2 separate regions of the Homo sapiens genome follow, and region 1 is linked to region 2. Evidence: fine-mapped expression QTL. Tissue or cell type: fibroblasts. Region 2 holds a variant in brackets; the other region holds the start of a gene. All regions are shown on one strand. Distances are from middle to middle. Region 1 holds the start of GPR156 (G protein-coupled receptor 156). Region 2 overlaps CFAP91 (cilia and flagella associated protein 91).

The links. PIP is the estimated chance that this variant, and not a neighbour inherited with it, causes the effect.
Region 1: it holds the start of GPR156, and the variant in region 2 is the best candidate, but not a certain one, in a credible set for the expression of GPR156 in fibroblasts (GTEx, PIP 0.81).

The regions. Positions count from the first base shown.
Region 1 is chr3:120,279,107-120,290,610 of GRCh38, forward strand. GPR156 (G protein-coupled receptor 156) reads right to left here and starts at 6,116. Exons shown (of 10, transcript NM_153002.3): 1 at 5,923-6,116. It overlaps LOC124909418 (a long non-coding RNA gene), which reads left to right and starts at 6,050. Exons shown (of 2, transcript XR_007096029.1): 1 at 6,050-8,031; 2 at 9,156-11,504.
Region 2 is chr3:119,760,409-119,771,912 of GRCh38, forward strand. It overlaps CFAP91 (cilia and flagella associated protein 91), which reads left to right. Exons shown (of 18, transcript NM_033364.4): 18 at 4,644-6,694. Among named protein-coding and RNA genes, the nearest start is that of NR1I2, 16 kb to the right of the region's middle. The variant T/C (reference allele first, on the strand shown) is at 5,412.

The DNA.
Region 1 (11,504 bases), 520 kb after region 2:
ACACATGGACATAAACGCAGGAAAGATAGATACTGCAGACTACTACAGGGGGAAGGGAGGGAGGGGGCATGGGTTGAAAAACTACCTATTGGGTACTGTGCTTATGCCTGGGTCCAATTTACCCATGAACAATCCTACACATGTATCCTCTTAATGTAAAATAAAAGCTGAAACTTTAAAAAAAGAAAAGGCACTCAATTAAGCATGCACCCTATTTACCTGTTCAGCCAAAAGACTGATTAATGCAGCACTTGAGAGATTCCACCTCACACAGAAAATCAGGAATATTTTAGATAAGAGCCAAGAAAGACTTTATTGGTCTGAAGTACTGCCAGACCAATGACTTCAGGCCCTTACCACACCTTCAACCTAGACCACACCTTTAGGACCTTGGCATTTCCCTAGTTAAGACACCCACTTCTGCCTTCCCTTTCAAGGTTTTCTCAATAACTCTTAGAAAATCAAGATGGAGAGCTGGCAGTGCTGACTGATGGTCTGACATTCCAGTGTAGGCAGATGGCAACATGAAGACCCAGAGCATACTTTCCTGGGTGTTTTCAGTCACTGAAACCCCATGCTACCCATGGCAGCAGAAGAGCAATTCCAACCAGCAAAGCCCTGGGGAGAATCATGAAGGTCCTCCCTTGCCCTTTCCTATCCTTGACCCAAGAAATCCCTTCTCACCATCAGAACTCCAGAGCTTTCTAGCTAATCTCCACATATGCAAAGCTCCTCACTGCAAGACTGAAGACTGACTTTCCCGGGACAATTGTTTCCACAGTTATTTCTTCCCAATGACAACATAAGGTATAGATGACTGACATGTTTAACACTCCTCCCTACTTCACTATTTTTATTATGGGTTAAAAAATCAACATCCTGAGGCATTTTTGAATAGAAATCTGCAACCCAAAGGAAGAAGACATATGGAAGGGGCCTGGCAGTTGTGTCCACAAGTCATCAGTCTGCATGACCTCAACCCCCCAAGTTGCCTCTCTGGTCACAGCCCGATGGCCTGGTCAAAGCAGACCTGGGCTTTGTGGGGATGATTGGCCAGCTGCATCACTTAGCCCTCAGTTGCCTGGCAACCCATGTCTGAGGTATCCTGGCCCAGATTCAGGTGATAAGGGGATACTTAGATCATTGCAACTCCCCCAGCTGAGGCAAAGTGGTCATGAAGAAGTCTAGGGAATGCTGTGGATTCAATCTGACTCAGAATATTCTGAGTGTTTGTGTGCTGGGGGCAGAGAGGTGCCTGGTGAGGCCTGTTTCTGGTCAGTCCCAGGAGTATACTGAGTATATCTGACCTCCTCTGGTTTACCTCTCTTAGAGTAGACCACGTAGAGTCTTCATAGTGTTCTGGACACAGCAGAATATTCTGGAAATGCCTTGGACATAAACATACCTCAAGGCCTTGCCTAGGGTGGATATACTTCCCAAGAACTCCTCAAAATGTAACCCAATCTCTGGCCAAAAGTTACACGGCCCTCCAGCAAACAGACTGAAGTCCATCCTCCTGTGGCCTTCATAAGCTGGCCTTTAGCTCTCCTGCTTTATGTCTTGCTGCAACCCTGCCCTGACCCCCATCCACCCACCTTCTCTCCTTACTCACACCACACCGGCACTTTGGCCCTCACTCTATCATGCTATTCTGTCTCTCTGGAAAGTCCCTTCCACACCGCAGCTGCCAGTCAAAGAGGCACACCTCCTTCAGAACCTGACTCAAAGCCACTTCTTCCTTGAAGAGAAATGTTGACTCCTCTTGGAATAGCTCTCTGGCTCTACTTGGAAACCCTGCCTAGCCTCCACTTCTACTCTCATCCTCTCATAGCAGGTTGTGATAATTACAGCACTCAGCACAGTTGTCTCATATGAACCTCGTCCACATGAGTGTCAAAGGAACTGTGCATTTTACAATGCTGATTCCCCCATTCTTCCACTTGGAATGACTGCATCCCAGCATTCCTCTCATTTTAACAAGTTCTTTTCACTCTCCTCTATGGATTCATACCTTTGTTGGTACTATATTAACAGGCCCCTCTTTACTCAAGCCATTTTTATCAGTACATGTAGCCTTTCTCTTGATCTAGACAGGATTAATGTCAATTTTTCTGTGTGCTCATTCTTCTCCATCCCTAGAAAGCAAGGTGCTCTGTGTGGTAGGGTTTAATAACACAGGGCCGTATCATCCATCACTGTCTGAGTTCTTCACAATTACGACATGCATCTCAGAAAAATGCCTTGAGAAGTCTAGATGGAAACCAATGCCCCATGGAAACACATGAATATTTTATCAGGCTCTGAACAAGACTCTTGCTCATGAATGTTTAAACCCCTCAGTAGCATAATGCTCAGAAGCTGATTAGAGTCAACTTGTGCTGGGATGGGGAAGCTGAGAGGAGGAGGGAAATACAACAGTGATGGCAGCAGGCATTCCACAGTGTCTCTTTCAAGGATTTAAAGCACTTAAGAGTGCACTGGAGGGCTCGCTAATTTGTTAGACACTCATTTTCCAAGTGCTTTCCCTCTAAAGTGGGAAGCAGGTCAGCTCCCAGCAGAGCTGTCTAGAGAGAGCACTGGCTGGGGTACATGCAAGCTGCTACATCAGTCACAGCCCCCATAACCTTGCCATACTTCTCTCTGCATTGGTGGCACAAGGAAGATTTTCATATAAAGTAGAGAAGACTCAAGATGAGGCAGACCCTTTATAGGTTCACAGCAGCTTTGTTCAAAATTGCCACAAACTGGCAACAACCAAGTATCTATCAACAAGAGAACAGATAAACACATGGTCAATATTCATACAATAAATACTACCTTGGAAAAAAAAGAAATGAACTACTGATACACACAATGGCACAGATGAATATCACAGACATTGTGTAGGGCAAAAAGAAGCCAAACACAAGAGTGCATACTGTGTAACTGCAGTTATATGAAATTCAGGAACCAGCAACACTAATCTATGATATTAGAAATCAGAACAAGGTTTGCTGCTTCTGTGGGGTGGAGGTGACTAGAAAGAGACGTGAGGAAAAGTTCTGTGACTGAAATATTTTATGTCTTGTTTGGGATGTGGGTTTGTCAAAACTGGCCAGCTATTAGCATAGGATTCAGCTGAGAAGTGCTGTGAGGATAAAAGAGGCCACTGATCTCCAGGGTCATCATTTACCTATCAAATATTGATTAACTTGAATTATGAATTACCTCAAAGGACTTCTAGTATTTTACCAAGGGTTCTGCCACCCTTATGGGAGTCAATGCCTTATTTGTGTAATTTAGTTACCTAATTAATCCAACAGTTATTTATTAATTGCTCATAATATACCAAATAGGAACACAGCCATAAATAAGACAAAAAAATTCCTTGTCTTGATGGAGTTTACATTAGAGTGGGGAACATGCCCAATTAACAAGGAAACACATATACTATATAGTGTCAGGGAGTGCTAAGTGCCATGAAGAAGGATAAAGCAGGGTCAGAAGACAGGGAGTGACCACAGGCTGTTTTAGATCAGGTGGCCATCATTCTGGAGAGTATGAAAAGAAACTGGAATGAGCTGAGAAAAGAAGCAGTGGCAGTGTCTGAAGGAAGAGTGTTCAGGCAGAGGGAAGAGCAAGGACGATGGTAAGCAAGAGGACGGCCATAGAATATGAGGGCACCAGACCAAATCACAAGCCCTGGTGGAGAGTTGAATGTTATTCACAGTGTGAGGGGAAGCCATTGGAGGGTGTTAAGCAGGAGAGTAATATCATCCAACTGACTGACATTTTAAGAATGGGAAAAAGAAGGCAGTTAAGGGGTCTGCTCAAGATTCTTATGGGAAAGTCAGAAGAATAAGATCCATATTTTTTTCTTAAAATGTTAATATCCTTCACACATCTATATTTGAAACACCTTCTGATTCAAGCTCTGTCCAGGACCAGATCACATATGTCTGGATTCTAAACACTGATTTTTATTAACAAGTTTGTTTTAAGATAATAAGTTTATAAAATGAGAGGTAGAAAACATCTCTGTATGTCTAAAATTTTTCATAATAAAGTACTGGAGAAAAAAAGGTGAGATAGTGATTTGCATCCTTTATCAGGCAAAATTCATCAGCAACTAAACATGAATGTTCTGATTCTCAAGACCTTTGCAAAATAAAGGCTCTGATTTTTTTTTTTCAACTAAATGTAGAACATTTCTTTCAACCCCCAAATCCACCTTTGCAGCCCAAGTCAGTCCACGTTGCACTGTTTCTGCAGCATGTCAGAGCCTCTGGCTTCTTTCCTCTCTCCCCCTTCCCCCAATTAATCTCTGAAACCTACATAAGAATGGAATAAAATGCAAATTCAAGGAGAAGGATGCAGTTTTCAGAGAAGGCCTCATCCTCCTCCTACCCTATAATGGAAATTCCCTTATGGTTAAACAACAAAAATGGAAATATTAAAACCCTCAGCTGAAAACAAACACTTAAGCACCTATTCTCCTTTCCAGAGAATCTGTTTCCCTCAATCATTATTTTTCCACTCTTTTGAGAGCCTTCTAGGCTGAAAGTTGTTTCATCTCACCCATCTTGGGTCTCTCCTAGGTCTCATTTCTGCCTTCACCAGGCTTGAAGTTCTATATCCCTAGGCTATCAGAACTTTGACTCTGACCAGGCTCAATTCTAGACTTTACTGGGGAATGGGGAGAAGCTAAAAGCTGGGGGTGGAAGAGAAGGGGAAACAGAGGGAACATTCCAGAGACAGTAGTGTCCCTGAAGGGGAATTAGGCTGGCAAAATGGGGACCAGAAAGCCACCTCTATTCCTCACAAGGGACACCTAACTCAAGCACAGCCTGCTAAAGCACTTTATTCTCCAGACTCAAATTGCCTTAACCTGTAAGCAAACGCTTCCCCAGCCATTTATCCGCAAGCGCATTTGCCCCACCTGCAGCAATGAAAGAAGCACTGTTTTTGCAAGCCGGGCTGCTACCCAGACTGCGAGGAGACATTCTGTGCAGAATTCAGCCACTGGTGGAGAAAAAGAAGTTTTTCTTTGCAGGCCTTGCTGCCTAATACAACTATATCAACAATTTCTCCCGCTGTGTAAGCCCCATCTGAAAATCTTTCCCTTTTATCTAGGATGCAAAAATGTAATGTTATCCTCCATATTCTGGTTTAAAGAACTACACCAGGAAAGACATTTTATGATAGGCTAGGGCATCATTTACCTCTAATTCAAGCATGCATGTACCTAGAAAACTAACAAAGGGGTAAGTTATGCCATGCCATGACTTCTCTTCCCAGATTTCTATCCTGAAATCTTAACAAAATTCGATTTTAAAAACCTCAAGGTTTGTATTCTTCACGAGTACATGGATACCTTGAGTTCTACCTAGAGGCCTCTAGTTTCTGACAGAGCTAACTTGGAAAGGGCTGCTTGCCAGGGTACAAGGATGTTGCAGCTTCCAGGTGACTCCCTCATGCCCAGAAGCAAGGCAGTTCAACAGACGCAGTGCAATACAATTGTCCCTTTTCAGGACTTTGCAATCTCCATGGGGGAGCCCATCGTGCCCGCCACTCTACACCCTGGGGGTGAACATGCCCTGCAAAGCAGATTCGGCGTGAGGAGACTCTGGAAAGTCTACAGGCGGTGGGAAACTGTTTCGGGATCTCTCATTTTCAGCACAGCCGGTCGCTTATTCAGCAGAAAACCCACGGCCCCATCTTCACACCAAATTACAGTACTCTCCCGTCTCTTCCACTGAAATTGCCACTCGCATCCCTGATGCGTGACCCCTGCTCACCTCAAGTTCCTATGAGAGTTTCTTTACCGGTTCCAAACAAACTGCCCAGATTCTGGAAAGGGAGAGAAAGCCCCTCCCCCTTTCCACTTTCACTTAATAATTAAGTGTTTGAAGTTTTGTGGATCCTTAAGGTCGCTGTGCTCACCTCATCAGCGTCGGACCGCCGAGAAGCGCCAAGCCCGCTGCTATGTGCAGGACGCCCACGGTCCCCCGGCGTCTCGCGCGTTCGCGGGGCTGGAAGGGGCGGGAAGGGGCGGGCCGGGGCAGAGACAGGGGCCCGCGCCCATCGCCGCGCCGGGAGCCTGGCGTGGAGGCGGCGGGACGGCGGCGCAGGCCTCTGAGGTGTGCGCGGGGCGCCGGGCGCCTCTGGCCGGGGCACTGGCTGAGCCACGCCTGCCCGCCCCTCCCTGGCGCCGCCCGCGTGGCGCGCCTCGACCCTGCTCTCCCGCGAGGGCCGGGAGGGCTCCGGGACCTTGCAGACTCCACGCGCCTCACGGCTCCTCCAGCTCCTCGGATCTTTCTCCTTGCGTCGCCGCCGAGTCCCCTGGGGCGGCCCCGCCTCCGGCCGTCTCCTCAGAGACCTTCCCTGGGGGGCGCCTTCCCCTCAGCGCCCCTTCCCGGGCCTCGAGCCAGCGGCTGCCGCAGGAGCTGGCCCCGGGGCGAGGAGCTTCAGATTCAGGTCCCTAGCCGGCCTCGGTAAGGAGACTGGAAGGATTCTCCGCGAATGCTCATTTTTATTTCTGGAGTGGCGTCGGAGTTACCAATTAGTTTTCTTATTTTATACTCTCTGGAGTTGCCAAATTCTTTACGTTGAGCTTTTGCTTATTTTATAATCAGAAAGACAAGTACGTTTCTTTTTCCAAGAATGCTTACAGGAGGCCACAAACAAGATGTTCGCACCCAGCCCACTGTCTTCCGCTTAAAAATATGTGTGAGATGTTGTGTTTAAGACACCCTCAAGGAGAAACATAGAGGGGAGACCTGGAAATGGTCTTGGGAATCCACTTAGACTTTCCATATTATATTTGTTTCATTTATTTTAAAATCTCAGACCTATTTATGTGCATTAGGACATTCCACATTTTTACAACTGCGCAGAGGAAATCTTTGGTTGTAGAGGACGGGAAGAGAGAGGCCAGGTCCGCAGACCCCACTGTGACAAGACAGTGGCTACATTCTTAACTGTTTTACACATTGTGATACCCAAAGACTTCTTTTCACAGGATTCTACTGAGGGGGAAAACAAGAGGAAGAAAGAAAGATAGACAAGGTTTTCCTCAAGGCAGTAAGCAAAAAGCTGGTTTCTCAGAAGAAAGAATTATGTCTGAGATTTTACCCAGGACTCTCCAGATCTCTCATTCTACACAGAAGGACCCTTTCATTTGGAACGTGCAGAAACTGAGGAGGACCATCTCTCTCCTCCATGGGGGCTGCCTGAGTTAAAAAGGCCTGGGTCCATCTTTTTTCCGTAGGAGAGCTGACTTCAGAGTCTAGAGCCAAATCTTCACTTCTGTGGCTCTAGATTGAGGATTTGCCCTTCTGATCTCTGTGGGGCTTTTTTTTTTTAACCTGGGAATTCCCCTGGGCTCTTCGGCTGTTATTCTCATCAACCCCTCTCTATATTCTGCAAGACATTGAAATCTTTCTCCCAGCTTGGCCCCCACCTCCAATCCCAGTATTCTCTTTTCTGAGATTGGAGTATTTCCAACCCCTCAGTTGCCAGGCACTGAAGGTTTTCATCTTCCAGGCCTGCCATGTTTACCTCTGAGATGTTTCTGGCAACTGTCCACTTCTCTGCATTCTCACACTGCTGCTCTTGATAAGCTTCGATTATCTGGGGCTGAATTGTTTCAATAATTTCCTAACTGATTTTCTTGCCTCCTATCTGTCCCCACCACCAACATAGACTTAAGAATGTCACTCTCTTGACAAAACAAGCCAACATCCTCTATCCTCTGTCCCACTCCCAAACCTGCAGTAACTTTCCTGTGCAATTGTAATACAGTGTAAACTTTCATAAGGATGGGGAGTGGCCAAGATGGCTGACCAGAAGCAGGTAATGTACATGGCTCTCACGGAGAGGAACAGAAGGGACGAGTAGATACAACACCTTCAACTGAAACATCCGGGTACTCGCATTGGGATTAATCAAGGAAACAACCTGACCCACAGAGAACAAGGAAAAGCAAGACAGGACAACAGCCCACCTGGGAGCAACAGGGAACCAGGGGATCTTCCCCTGCCCAGGGAAGTGGTAAGTGAATGAGCGACCCCGGAAACCATGCTTCTCCCACAGATCTTTGCAACCCTCCTGTCAGGAGATCTCCTTGTGAATCCACTCCACTAGCAGCAGGGCCTTCAGTCTTCAGTCTGGCAGACAGGGCTACATGGAGTCTCAGCAAAGCAGCCACTCAGGCATGCGTGGAGACCCTGGAGGCTTAGATACTTGGGCGTTCTGGCAAAAGTAGCTGCATCTCCCACAAAGAGGGAGTTTAGACTCCCATTCATACCCCTAAGAAAGAGGCTGAATCCAGAGGGCTGAGCAGCAACAGCCCGCAGGGCCCACTTCCACAACACCTCACACAAGACAGGACCCACTGGCTTGGAATTCCACCCAGCTACCAGTAGCAACATAGCACCTGCCTAAGTAGGAGCTCCCAGGGGAGGGGTAGGCCAACATCTTTGCTGTTCAGGAGCTTTAGCTGTTCCAGCCTTCAGGGTTTGGAGAGTCTGAGACGACCTGGGGCGGTAAGGATGCCCCAGCACAGCACAGCTGCTCTACCAAAATGTGGCCAGACTGCTGCTTTAAGTGGGTGCCCAATCCCATTCCTACTCACTGGGTGTGACCTCCCAACCAGGGCCTCCAGCCACCCTGCCTGAGCTCTTCAGCTGTGACAGAGATCTGAATTCCCCCTGGGATGGCACTCTTAGAGGGAGGGATGGGCTGCCATCTTTGCTGTTTGGCTGACTTAGCTCTTCCAGCCTTTGGGTTGTAGAGTGTCTGAGGTGACCAGGAGCTGAAGTGGACCCCCAGCACAGCACAGCTGCTATACAGAAATGTGGCCAGACTGCTTTTTTAAGTGTGCCCCATCCTGTTCCTCTTCATTAGGTGGGACCTCCCAACCAGGGTCTTCAGCCACTTCCTACAGGTGCCTTTGGGCCAGCAACAGGTCCATACCTCCCTGGGACAAAGCTCCCAGGGGGAGGGACAGGCTGCCATATTTGCTGTATCATAACCTTCACTGGTGACACCTCCAAGTTCTGGAAAATCTGAGGTGACTAGGGACTGGAGCAGGCCCTAAGCATACCAGAGCAGCCCTGTAGAAAAGTGGCCAGACTGTTTCATGGGTGCCTATTCCCATATCTCCTCACTGGCAGGTCCTCCAGGCCTCGGCCTCCAGCCACTCCCCACCAGAGCTATCCAGCCAATACCAACTCAGCGACTTCCAGGACAGTGCCTCCAGGGGCAATTGAAAGGGTCTTAGCCACTGCCTCTGCTGTGGAACTCCCCTTGCCACCCTTGGACTAAAGAAGGAGCAAAGACCCTAAGTGCCTTTTCCATACCAACAAGCTGCAGTAGACCCAAGGAAAGGAGACCAGTCCATCTCCCATGTGTTCCACACTGCTCACTGGACAGGCAACCCCTGGCTTGGGTCCAAAGCACGAACCCTCCTTCTTGGGCTGATTGCACTGAGCAATTGGTAACCTGCATTTTTCTGGGGGTAGAGCCCCCAGGAGTCAAGCAAATGACTCTCGGCCACAGCACCTACTAAGATGAGCCTCTGCTACTTCTAAGCTGGGGAAGGAACATAAACACAGATCACTCCAGAGCTGCAGTGGGCAGTCCAGGGGTGCTAAGTCGTGAACTACAGCCAGCACTCAAGGGGGAGAGGAACCCACACTTTCGGAGCACTGAGAGGGAACACAGCTGCAACTGTGAAGAAACATACAGGAGCAGGAGTCTACCAATTGACCAATAAGCCTAAGTGTCACCTGCAGGATCACACCCCAAAGCTTCAACACGAAAAATATTTCACTAACATACACACCTCTGAAACCAGAGACAAGAAGTCAGCTTCAAATAAAGACCCTATAGAAAGCCTCAGCACAGTGAAAACATCCAAAAAAGAAGTCTGTTGACTGTAGTCAATCTACGTTGCAGTCAAATGAACACCCACACACAGAGATGAGAAAGAACCAATGCAAGAACTCTGGTTACTCAAATGGCCAGAGTATCATACGTCCTCCAAACGATCACACCAGTTCTCCAGCAAGAGTTCTTAACCAGGCTGAACTGGCTGGAATAACAGAAATAGAATGCAAAATATGGATAGGAACAAAGAGATCATCAAGATTCAGGAAGATGGCAAAACCCAATCCAAGGAAAATAAGAATTACAATAAAGTAATACAGGTGCTGAAGGATGAAATAGCCAGTATGAAAAAGAACCTAATTGGTCTGACAGAGCTGAATAACACAATACAAGAATTTCACAATGTGGGCCAGGTGCAGTGGCTCACGCCTGTAATCCCAGCATTTTGGGAGGCTGAGGTGGGCAGATCACCTGAGGTCAGGAGTTCGAGACCAGACTGGCTAATATGGTGAAACCCCATCCCTACTAAAAATACAAAAATTAACCAGGTGTGGTGGTGAGAGGTGACAGCATGCTGGCAACCCTCACAGCCCTCGCTCGCTCTCGGAGCCTCCTCGGCCTTGGTTCCCACTCTGGCTGTGCTTGAGGAGCCCTTCAGCCTGCCGCTGCACTGTGGGAGCCCCTTTCTGGACTGGCCAAGGCCAGAGCCAGCTCCCTCAGCTTGCGGGGAGGTGTGGAGGGAGAGGCACAGGCGGGAACTGGGGCTGGCCCCCATGGCACTTGCGTGCCAGCGCAAGTTCCAGGTGGGCGTGGGCTCTGCAGCCCCGCACTCGGAGCAGCCAGCCGGCCGGCCCCACTGGCCCCAGGCAGTGAGGGGCTCAGCACCTGAGCCAGCAGCTGCTGTGCTCAATTTCTCACCAGGCCTTAGCTGCCCCACCGCAGGGCAGGGCTCAGGACCTGCAGCCTGCCATGCCTGAGCCTTCCCCCCGCCCACCCCTGCCGTGGGCTGCTCAGTGAGCGCCACCCCCTGCTCCACGACACCCAGTCCCATTGACCGCCCAAGGGCTGAGGAGTGCGGGCACACAGCACAGGACTGGCAGGCAGCTCCACCTGTGGCCCCAGTGTGGGATCCACTGGGTGAAGCCAGCTGGGCTCCTGAGTCTGGTGGGGTCTTGGAGCATCTTTATGTCTAGCTAAGGGATTGTAAATACACCAATCAGCACTCTGTATCTAGCTCAAGGTTTGTAAACACACCAATCAGCACCCTGTGTCTAGCTCAAGCTTTGTGAATGCACCAGTCGGCACTCTGTATCTAGCTAATCTGGTGGGGACTTGGAGAATCTTTATGTCTAGCTAAGGGATTGTGAATGCACCAGTCGGCATTCTGTATCTAGCTCAAGGTTTGTAAATGCACCAATCAGCACTCTGTGTCTAGCTCAGCGTTTGTAAATACACCAATCAACACTCTGTATCTAGCTGACCTAGTGGGGACATGGAGAACTTTTGTGTCTAGCTCAGGGATTGTAAACGCACCAATCAGCACCCTGTCAAAACGGACCAATCAGCTGTCTGTAAAATGGACCAATTGGCTCTCTGTAAAATGGACCAATCAGCAGGATGTGGGTGGGGCCAGA
Region 2 (11,504 bases):
GGAGAGCTAGACTGTAATACAGTAATAGTGGGGACCTCCAGTATCCCACTTTCAGCAATGAACAGAACATCTAGACAAAAAATCAATAGAGAAACATCAGACTTACACTACACCTTAGACCAAATGGACCTAACAGACATATATAGAATATTCCATCCAGCAGCAGCAGAATACACATTCTTCTCAAATACACACAGAACATTCTCCAAGACTGATGACTGATAATAAGCCTAACAAACTTAAGAAGATTGAAATTATAGCCAGTATTTTTTCCAACCACTGTGGTATATAAAATAGAAATCAGTAACAGGAGGGATTTCAGAAAATTCAGAATTACATGGAAATTAAACAACATGGTCCTGAACAACAAGAAGTCAAAGAAGAAATGAAAAGGGAAATTAAAAAAAAAACCTTGAGGCAAATGAAAATGGAAACACAAGACATAGTTATGGGATGCAACAAAAGCAGTTCTAAGAGGGAAATTTATAGCAATATGTGCTTGCATCGAAAAAGAAGAAAGATCTCAAGTAAACAACGTAATATTACACCTCAAAGAACTAAAAAAAGAACAACAAATGAAACCCAAAATTAGTAGAAGGAAAGAAATAATAAAGATTAGACCAGAAATAAGTGAAATAGAAACTAGAAAAATAATAGAAAAGATCAACAAAACTAAAATTCGGTATTTTGAAAAGATAAAATTGACAAACCTTTAACTAGACTACTTAAGGCCAAAGAGGGAAGACTTAAGGAAAATCAGAAGTGAAAGAGGAGACATTACAACTGATACCACAGAAATGCAAAAGATAAGACTACTATAAACAATTATATACCAACAATTTGGACAATCTAGAAGAAATGGATGTCTAGACACATGCAACCTATCAAGATTGAACCATGAAGAAAATAGAAAATCAGAATAGACCAATAATAAGTAAGAAGATTGAATCAGTAATGAAAAGACTCTCATCAAAGAAAATCCCAGGCAGGACCCAATGGCTTCACTGCTGAATCCTACCAAATGTTTAAATTTCAGTCTTCCAAAAAAATTGAAGAGGAGGGAATACTTCCAAACTCATTTTACAAGGTTAGCATTACTCTTGTTTCAAAACTAGACAAGGATACTACAAGAAAGAAAAATTACAGGCCAATATCCCTGATTAACGTGGATGCAAAAATTCTCAAAAAAAGTAACAAACTAAATTCAACAAATTAAAAGGATCTTTCACTATGATCAAGTGGGATTCATCCTACAGATGCAAGAATGGCTCAACATACACAAATCTATAAATGTGATATACCATATTAACAGAATAAAGGACAAAAATCACATGATCTTATCAATAGATTCAGAAAAAAAATTTGACAAATTCAATATTCTTTCATGACAAAAAAAACTCTTAACAGATTCATTATAGAACAAATGTACCTCAACATAGTAAAGTCCATATATGACAAACCCACAACTAACATCATTCTCAACAGTAAAAAGTTGAAGCCTTTTCTTCTATGATCAGAAACAGACAAGGATGCTCCACTCTTGCTACTTCTATTCAACATAGTACTGGAAGTCTCAGCCAGCACAGTTGGGCAAGAGAAAGAAATAAAAGGCACCCAAATTGGAAAGGAAGAAGTTAAATTGTTTTTCTTTGCAGGTGACATGGTCTTATATATAGAAAACCCTAAAGACTCCAACAAAAAAACTAATAGAAATGATAAAGTAATTAATTTACGGGTACAAAATCAACATACAAAAATCAGTAGCATTTCTATACATTAACAACAAACTATACAAAAAAGAAATCAAGAAAACAATCCCATTTATAATAGCTACAAGGAAAAAAATAAAATACTTACTTAGGAGTAAATTGAATCAAGGAGACCTGTACATTGAAAACTATCAAACATTGATGAAAGAAATTAAAGAAGACACAATTAAATGAAAAGATATCCTGTGTTCATGGATTGGAAGAATTAATATTGTTTAAACATCCATGCTACTTAAAGCAATCTACAGATTCAATGCAATCTCTATCAAAATTCCAATGACATTTTTCACAGAAATAGAAAAGGCAATCCTAAAATTCATATGGAACCATGAAAGACCCCAAATAGCTAAAACAATCTTGAAGCAAAAAGAACAAAGCCATCACACTACCTGACTTAAAAATCTACTGCAAAGCTATGCTAATCAAAACAGCATGGTACTACACACACAGACCAATGGAATGTAATAGAGAGCCCAGAAATGCACCCACAGATTTGTGGTCAATTGATTTTTGACAGAGGTGCCAAGAACACACAATGGGAAAAGGACAGTCTTTTCAATAAATGATGCTGAGAAAACTGGATATCTACATACAGAAGAATGAAATTAGAACCTTTTCTCCACACCATATTCAAAACCCAACTCAAAATGGATTAAATACTTAAGCATAAGTCCTGATACTGTAAAACTGCGAGAAGAAAACATAAGGGAAAAGCTCCTAACATTGGTCTGGATGGTGATCTTTTGGATATGACTCAAAAGCACAGGCAACAAAAGTGAAAATAGACAAAAGAGATTACATCTAACTAAAAAGTTTCAGCACAGCAAAAAACAATAAACAGAGTGAAGAGACAACCTGCTAAGTGGGAGAAAATATGTACAAACCATACATCTGGTAAGAGGTTAATATTCAAAATATGTGAGGAACTCAAACAACTCATTAGCAAGAAAATAAATAACCCAATTAAAAAATGGGCAAAGGACCTGAATAGACATTTCTCAAAAGAAGACACATACAAATGGCCAACAGATACATGAAAAAAATGCCCAACATTACTAATCGTTCGAGAAATGCAAACAAAAGCCACAATGTGATATCACCTCATACTGTTAGAATGGCTATTATCAAAAAGACAAAAAGTAAGTGTTGAGGAGGATGTGAAGAAAAGAGAACCGTTGCACATTGTTGGTGGGAATGTAAATTAGTACAGCCATTGTGGAAAACATTATGGAGGTCCTCAAAAAATAAAAAATAGAACTACCATATGATCCAGCAATTCCACAACTGGGTGTATATCCAAAGGTAATGAAATCAGTGTGTGAAAGAGATATCTGCACTCCCATGTTCACTGCAGCATTAATCACAATAGCCAAGATTTGAAATCAACCTAAGTGTCCACCAACAGATGATGGTATACACACAATTGAATACTATTCAGCCTTAAAAAAAAAAAGAAGGAAATCCTGTCATTTGCAGCAACATGTCTGAACCTGGAGGGCATTATGCTAGGTGAAATAAGCCAGGCACAGAAATACCAGCATAATGCCATGAACCAGGTGTAATGCATCCACACACATACACATATGCTATCACTTGCATGTAGAGTAGAAAAAAGTTGAATTCATAGAAGTAAAGAGTAGAATGTTGGTTGCCAGAAGCTAGTGTGGTAGGGAGATGTTGGTCAAAGGATACAAAATTTCTGTTAGGAAGAGTAAGTTCAAGGGATGCATTGTAAAACCGTGGTGACTATATTTAATAACAATGTGTTATATTTTGAAAATAGCAAAGAGAGATTTTAAGCACCCTTTCCACAAAAAATGAAAAGTATATGAAGTAGTGCATATGTTAATTAGCTTGACTGAGCCATTCTACAACGTGCACGTATTTCAAACCATCATGCTGTACCTGACAAATATATATAATCTTTCTTTGTCAGTTTAAAGTAAATAAATGAAATAGTAAAGGATGTTGGCAGTAAGTCAAAGTAAAATGGAAAGAGAATCAGAAACGGTATTTATGACCTCCAGTGTCTACATATCAACTTTTCCCAAACAATTGTTCCATGGATAACTGCTCTTCAGGACATTCATAAGCAGGGCTGCTCCTGGTATTTGCAAGACCCAGGTCAAGAGGATGAATTGAAGCATCATATCATATGAAAATATATAAAGTTGTAAATTAGGCTAACATACTGTTATATAAAATTTATTCTACCCACCTACTTTCACAAACATATCTTTGAGATGATAACATTGAAAAACGGGTAAGCAGCTATGGGCTTTATGTAATTGAAAGATGGCAAGAACCAAAGATGGTAAGCTTAGTTATTATTGTACATGTCTGACTATTCTGTTTATGGTCCAGTAATATTTGGGCAAGTAATGAAATAAAGGCATACATGGTTTTTTAAAAGTTAGAAATACATATGTATATATACAAACAAATACATATATATATATACATTATGCCTGCAGTATACAGAGAATATTTCTGGAAAGGTCAATAAGAAGTTGGTAGGTAGCTGTTGCCAGGCATGGAAACTGGGGACTGGAGTTCACACCAGGGGAAAAGAGATTTACCTTTCTCATGTTGACATTCTTTTGTATTTTTATTTTTTTATGATGTATGTATACAACCCAGTTAATGTACAGATTTTTTTAAGTGCTAGAATTTGGAAACTGACACACTGTGAAGTAAGAAACATCTGGATCCATAAGGCTTATAAATAGCAGAGCTGGGATATGTGTGGGGCTGTCTGAGTTCAAAGCTAGGGCTCAGACACACTGTATCACAGGAATTTTTTGCATGTATTGATCTGATAATGTTTCTAAAAGATGACATAATCATAAACATTTGTTTTGCTCTTTTTTACAGATTGTGATTTTTTTGTAAAAGAAGCTGTACGAATCATCATAAATAATTCCAATAGTCTGCACTTCTCCCAAGGTGTGCACTGCTCATAAACTTGCCAGTGTGTGATTCATGAGAAAGGAGATTTATTTTCCTTAAACATCCAATAATTTAAAATGATTTTCAATAATAATAATCAAATGAAAAAGCTTCATTCTCTTCAGTGTCTTCTAGATGCCCTACTTAAAGAGAACATTTTCTTATGTCTCATTTCAATATTTTGTTAACTATGAGGATGTGCTGGTTTGTTGAATCAAACAAAAGGAAATGTTGTGGAATATTTTTCCAAGTAGTTTTGGTTCACTATTCACAGGACATTGGCATTATCTACTAAGGCTGAAAATGTGCATATTCCATGACTCAGGATTTTATCTCCTAGATATATATTCAACAGAAATGCATGAGTATGTGCACCAACAGGCATGACAAAAATATTTATAGTAGTGGTGTTCACAATAGTCCCAAACTGGAAACCCAAGTGTCCATCTCCATCGGAACAGAAAACTATACTTTGGTCTGCTTCTACAGTGGCACATCAACCCACCTTTGAGCTTTAGATCTAAGAAGTGTGTTCATGCAACAGCCATAGAGATGGTGCTATTGAAAGGCAATCTGCCCATCCTGTGTATTGACAAGCATCAGGATTCCAGGAGGATTCTTCCTGATTCAAAGACTGTCAAATAGGAAAAAAGAAAACAGTAAATGAACAAAAACATCAACATGGAGTCCAAG[T/C]AATGAATTTATAGAGGAAAATGTATGCTACTCTGAAAACAAAGCTTATGTTAGAGAATATCTTACTGTAAGAAACAAGGAAAATTGCAGAAACATTTGCTGAGTGTTTTTAATAGGAGTCAAAAAGAAAGGGTCTTTTCAGAAACTGAAGTAGGAAATAATAACAGACAAGGTCAAAAAATAGATGCAGGCTGAAAAGAAAAGGAAGTGGGCTAAGATGGGAAAAATATAAAAAGATTTAAAATCCAGCAACAAAATTTACACATTCATTTGGATGCAGTGAAAAGGGCAGAAATACCACAGCAGAGAATAAAATTGATAATGTTGGCAACACATTTATTAAGTGATCCAACATGGGATGGGAAGGAATGGGCAAAGAGATTAAAATGACAGAAGTTAGCTGTAGATGACCTATCCCACAGCAATCGGAGTTCTTGAAGAAGAAACCAGAACAAATAAAATAGAAACAATAATCAGAGTTTAATAATTAATTTTCTGAGTTTTTTTTTAAAAAAACTAATTATACAAACTTGAAAGGGTTCACCTTGCCCTAGCAAAACTAGGATTGGGACACCTTTTTTTCCCCCTGAGGATCACTGACAAAAAACACTGCACCAGTAAGGAAGCAACTAAATTTTGTTTTGTTCTTTGAAAAAGGCTAACCTGAGCTAGGTAAAGGTTATATCATTCACTTTTGAAATAAACCATCGAGAACACAAAATGACAAGTGAGTTAGGTTGGGCTGATGGGATAGAAGGTGGGAGGGGAATGCTATACAGCTGGGAACAGCAGACTTTCTCTGAAGGGCCAGATGGTAACTACATTAGGGTTTGCGGGTCTGATGGTCGCCATCATAACTGCATACTCAACTCTGCCGTTGTAGGGTAAGAGCAGCACTCGATGACACAGAAATGAATGCACATGACTGTGTTCCAGTAAAATTTTATTTTAATTAAAATCAATTCATGTTTGAAAAAGGATTTAAAGTAGCTTCTAATAAAGGACATGTGTAATGAAACTTAAAATATGATATTTTCTTTAAAAATCTTTATCCTTATGTAGACTTCTAAAACTATGTTTTGCATTTAGACAGTCAAGGAAAATACAAGTTGTTATACAATTCTCATTGACTAATTGAAGTTTACTAGGAGAGGAAAACTTTTTCTTGATACCGGCAATCTTTTACTTATAATGGCTTGAGTTAAAATGCTCCAACTTTTCTAATTTTTGCTTTTGAAAATAAAACACCTATAGTGACAATAAAAACACACATTTAAAGCCAAGTGGTCATAGTGACTGGAGCCATGTAGTGAATTGGGGCTAGACTAGTACGATCAATAGCGATACAAAATCACAATGAACTGTCTGAGGCAGAAAACTTTTTGTATGGATGCGTAATCAGATATAGTGAATCATTGTAAAGAGAGGCAGTGCTTTAGCTTGAGGCAAGGTAAAATCCAAAAGGAAAGTGTGCAGTGTGGGTAAAGGATCTCTTTAGGATGCGAAACTGTTAGCACAAAATTGTTGGGAATTCTAAGTTCCTGAAGTGCAGAACTCCCAGACAAATTATGTTAGAGCCTGATTGTTAGTTCAGGAGGAGCTTCCACTGCTAACTCCCATCCTCCTACTCAGTTCTAGGCCACTGGTACCCACTTGAGGGTAGAGTTGTATTTACAAATACTTGGAGTGATTTTATGCAACAAACTGCACAGAGGATTATAGACTCAGTTAATAGGGGAGTGGAGAATGCCAGCAAGCCCCTGAGTTAGAGTGAATGGCCTTCAACTGTGCTTACCAATTGTGGAACAAAAGCCAGCTAGAACCCTAGCAATATAGTAGGGTTATGGGATCTTTGGAGTGTTGCTTTTCTGGCTGGATACCTCCGTGGACAGTGGGGCCTTTGCCTGAGTTCTTGTCCTGTGTCCAGGAAGAATGAGGTATGCAGACAAGTGGAGGGTGAGCAAGATGAAGAGAAGCTTTATTGAGTGTTACAACAGCTCAGAGGAGACCCACAGTGGGTGGCTTCTCTTTGTAGGCAGGTCATCTGGTCGAGTGTTCAGCTCTCAGCAAAAAGGAGGCAATGGAGTGGGTGGCTCCTCTCTGCAGGCAGGTCATCAGGATGAGTATTCAGCTCTCAGCAGAGAAGGTAGCGCCTCTCTGCAACTGGTCATTCAGACATCTCCTCTGCTCTGGCTGAGTCCATGGTTTTTTGATCTTCAGAGAGGGGAAGTGCATGCTGATTGGTCCATGGGTAGCCATGGGCAGGCCCAGGAAAAAGGGATATAAGCTCCCCCTCCAGGCAGCAGGACTGGCAGCCCGGCGCCCAGGCTTCAGGCCTTCTTGGCATGAAGGTGGGACTTCACTGAGGCCCTGCCCCCTTCTGCCCAGGAGCTGTCTGCCTCCCCTGTCATTCATGGCACCCAGGCTCTTCCTGCAAAGGGGTGCCTGCAGGCCAGTGCTGAGCTGCCCTCAGCACCCCCTCAGCTTCCCTCCTGTGCTCTTCAGTGCCCAAAGACAGGAGGGGGCCAAGGCAGCAGGGGGCTGGCATGTCAGCACTGCCCTGAACGTGCGCCCACCCTGCTGGCCTGTGACAGTGCCCTGGCTCGGCCCCAACCTTGCTCCACAATCAGAACATGCACCAGGAGTGGGGAGAAGCCAGGCAGCAGGAGCAGGCACTTGCAAGCCTGTTAGGGTAGGGGGACATTCCAGGGCCCCCAAGAGTTCAGGGATGCCTGAGTCTGCAGCCACAGTTTGGGCAGCTGCAGCTGTGCCCAGCAGCAGGCTCCTGCCTGCTCCCAGTCCCCCAAGAGCAAAGGGAGGCTCACATCTGCAGCCACGGTTGGGTGGCTGAAGCCCTGCTGGGAGGGCAAGGCTCCTGCCTGCTCTGTGGAGTGGGAGGCCAGGGTCTACAGCCATGGTTTGGGTGGCTGCAGTGGCACCGGGGGAGCTCCCACCCCAACTCAGAAGGGGCGGGGCTCCTGCTTGTCCCTAGCTCCCACCAGCTCCATGGAGGGTGCAGCCTTGGCTGCACCTCCCTGCTGCAGCCAGTGTGATGGCAGTGGCAGACCGTCTGATGTGGCCACTGCCATCAGTAGCATGGAAGTTAAGAGAGCAGGCTCTGGACCCAGACTGTCCGGATTGAAATCACAGTCCAAGTTCAGTGTGTCAGACAGGTTATTTAATCCCTGGGTTATTTAAGCCTTAGCCTCCTCATGTGTAAAATGGTATAACCATAGGTTGTACCTCATGAGGTTGATGTCGGGATGTAATGAATCAATTTATATAAAAAGCTTAGCAGGCAACACACGGTAAATACCCAATAAGCACCAGTTAGCTAATTTTACTATCACAAAGGGATAAAGGACAAAAGAGAAATAGGTGGAGCATGTTTCCTGCTTATAAGGAAAACGACCACACCTACCACTGTATAGGCAGTGGCGCAGTGGATATCAGTCTCTAACCCATCAGATGAGTTTCTCGGTCTCATTTGGGGAACAATAAGAGACAGAGAGAATATGGATGTGCTATCATCTGCCCCTCCCCTAACCCCTCCAGCAAGAAAGGGATAGGAATGAGTACCTCATGTTCTGTAGAAACTTGAGGTGTTGAGAATAAGGGCTCCCTCCCTACCAGATATTAGTGCAGTAGAAGGAAGCCATAAGTATTGCGCAGAAGAACTTCCCAGAAAACTTAGCTGCAATCTTGAAGGAGGCACCTTTTATGATAGGTGGCACATGAGGAAACTGGAAGTGAGGACTACAGTGGTTCTTGGCTGTGGCTGCATGCGAAAACCACCTGAGTACTTTAAAAAAAAAGTGCTTCTTGGGTTTCACCTCGGGCCAATTAAGATAGAATCTTTAGAAGGGGAGCCCAAGCAAACGGATTTTTTTTTTAAAGTTTCCCAAGTGATTTAATGTACATTCCAAATTGAGAATAGATGACGTGTTTCCCAAGGAAATTGTCCCTCTCCAAGCATTTACCATTCAGACTTACTACAGAAGATATGTCTTCAGTCCAGGTTCTAATTATATTTTCTTTGTAAAGCATAAAGAATTTCAAAGAAAAAAAATGTGTGAGAAAACATTGATACTGGACATAGTCATAACACTTGGTACTTCCTCAATAACACACTTGATAGTAATTTCCTGCGTAATCGTCTCTCTCACTGGCGTGTGAGGGCAGGGCAGCAGCTGTACCTAGTGAGTTCATTTGTTTTCATTTGCAGTGCTTAGCCAGTCCAGTCTCTGGCACCTATCAATCCCTTAGTAGGTATTTATTGAATGAAATTCTACATACTTAATGTTTGTAAAAGTAAACATGTGTGTGGTTTTAGAGATCATTTATTATGTCTTGGCATATTACGGTATGAAATGAGTTTCAAGGACATAATTCTAATTTATAACATTCATTCCTTATAAACGTTTAACTTTTTGTGATTCAACTTGTGAATGTTATTATCAAGGAACCAAGTAAGTCATAAAGGAAGGGAGAGGCCTTCTGTATGACATCCTAAAAGGAATTTATCCCATTTATCCTTGTACAAAAGACATTCGACAGCTTAAGAAACCTCCAACAGAAGTTTCAGAGAAGAAGCAAAAATGTTCTTTTCACTGTTTCTTTTATTTTTAATAAAAATTAAAGATATTTTATTAAAACATATCTATAAAATCAGCTTTCAATTATGTCAGAATGAAGAGGTCAGCAATACTCCTCCACTAAAAAAAAAAACCATACAACTGGACAAAATTGACAAAAGCATCCAGGGAACTAGAAATCTACTAGAGATGGGCAGCAAGTTGAAAAGCTCCTAGAGATTCAAGGAGAAACAGCAGAAGGCTAATTCTTTCCCCCACCTCCCATCAAGCTCAATCAGCAAGAATCGTAGTTTTCCAGTTTGGAGTTGGCCAAAAACCCAGTGGCTCTTCTGCCAGAGGAGAAATACTTATAAAGTTTTAAATTTCAATATTTAGGGTCGAGAAGTGGCATGAAATTTTGTGACTTTGCATATACTAAAAGTAGCAAACTCAGAAATGAATAGGGAAAGGCCACAGCTTTGTTAGCCCAAGGATGCAGTCCCAGTTGGGGTGAGCAGCAAACCAACCAGAGTGCTAATGGGGAGATCCTGGAAGGGTTGAGACAAGTTTTCCACATACCCCTGGCTGACTGAGAATACGAAAAAACTAACCCAGAAAAAGGAAAAAAAAGGAGAAACATAAGACTAAAATCAAGTTGGGACAAATAGAAAATAAATCACAAAATGATACACCTCAACTCAACTTTAACATGCATTAAATATTAGTGTATTAAACACTCCAAATAAAAGGCACAGGTGTCAAAATGGTTTTTTGTTTTGTTTTTTTTTTCTTAAAATTGTTTTGAAGAAAAGCAAAACCAAGCATATGATTTACAAGAGACACTTTTAAATATAAAAACAGTGATAATGAAAGTAAATAGGTGGAAAATGATACAACAGGAAAATATTTAGCATAAGAAAACTAGACTGGTTCTATTACTACAGCTGGCAAAAAAAAAATTTCAAAGCAGGCAGTATTACCAAAGATAAAGTAGGATATCTCATAAAAATAATAAATGAAAACCAAATAGTCTTATCCATTTATGCCCCTAATAACTGAGCTTCAAAATTCACAAAGCAAAACTAACAAAAAAAGAAGTAAACAAATCTCCAAAGTTGAAGACTTAACACCTTCTTTTCAATAGCATAGAACAATTAGACAAGAAATCAGTAAAGTTTAGAAGATTTTAACAAAACTACATACCTTTGCTTAACACTAATCAGAACACTATACCCAACCACAGCAGAATACATATTCTTTTCAAGTGTACATGGAACATTTATCAAGATAAGCCATATTTTGAGCCACAAAACATCTTTATATGTTTCAAACAATGGAAATCTTATAAAATATGTTATCTGACCACAGAAACAACTAACTTAGAAATCAGGAACAGATACATATTTTTAGAAAATCCCCAAACATTTGGAAGTTAAACAGTGTATCTCTAAATAACCTTTGGATCAAAGAAGAAATAACATGTGAACGATTGAGAAAATACAACTTCAAAATTTGTAGG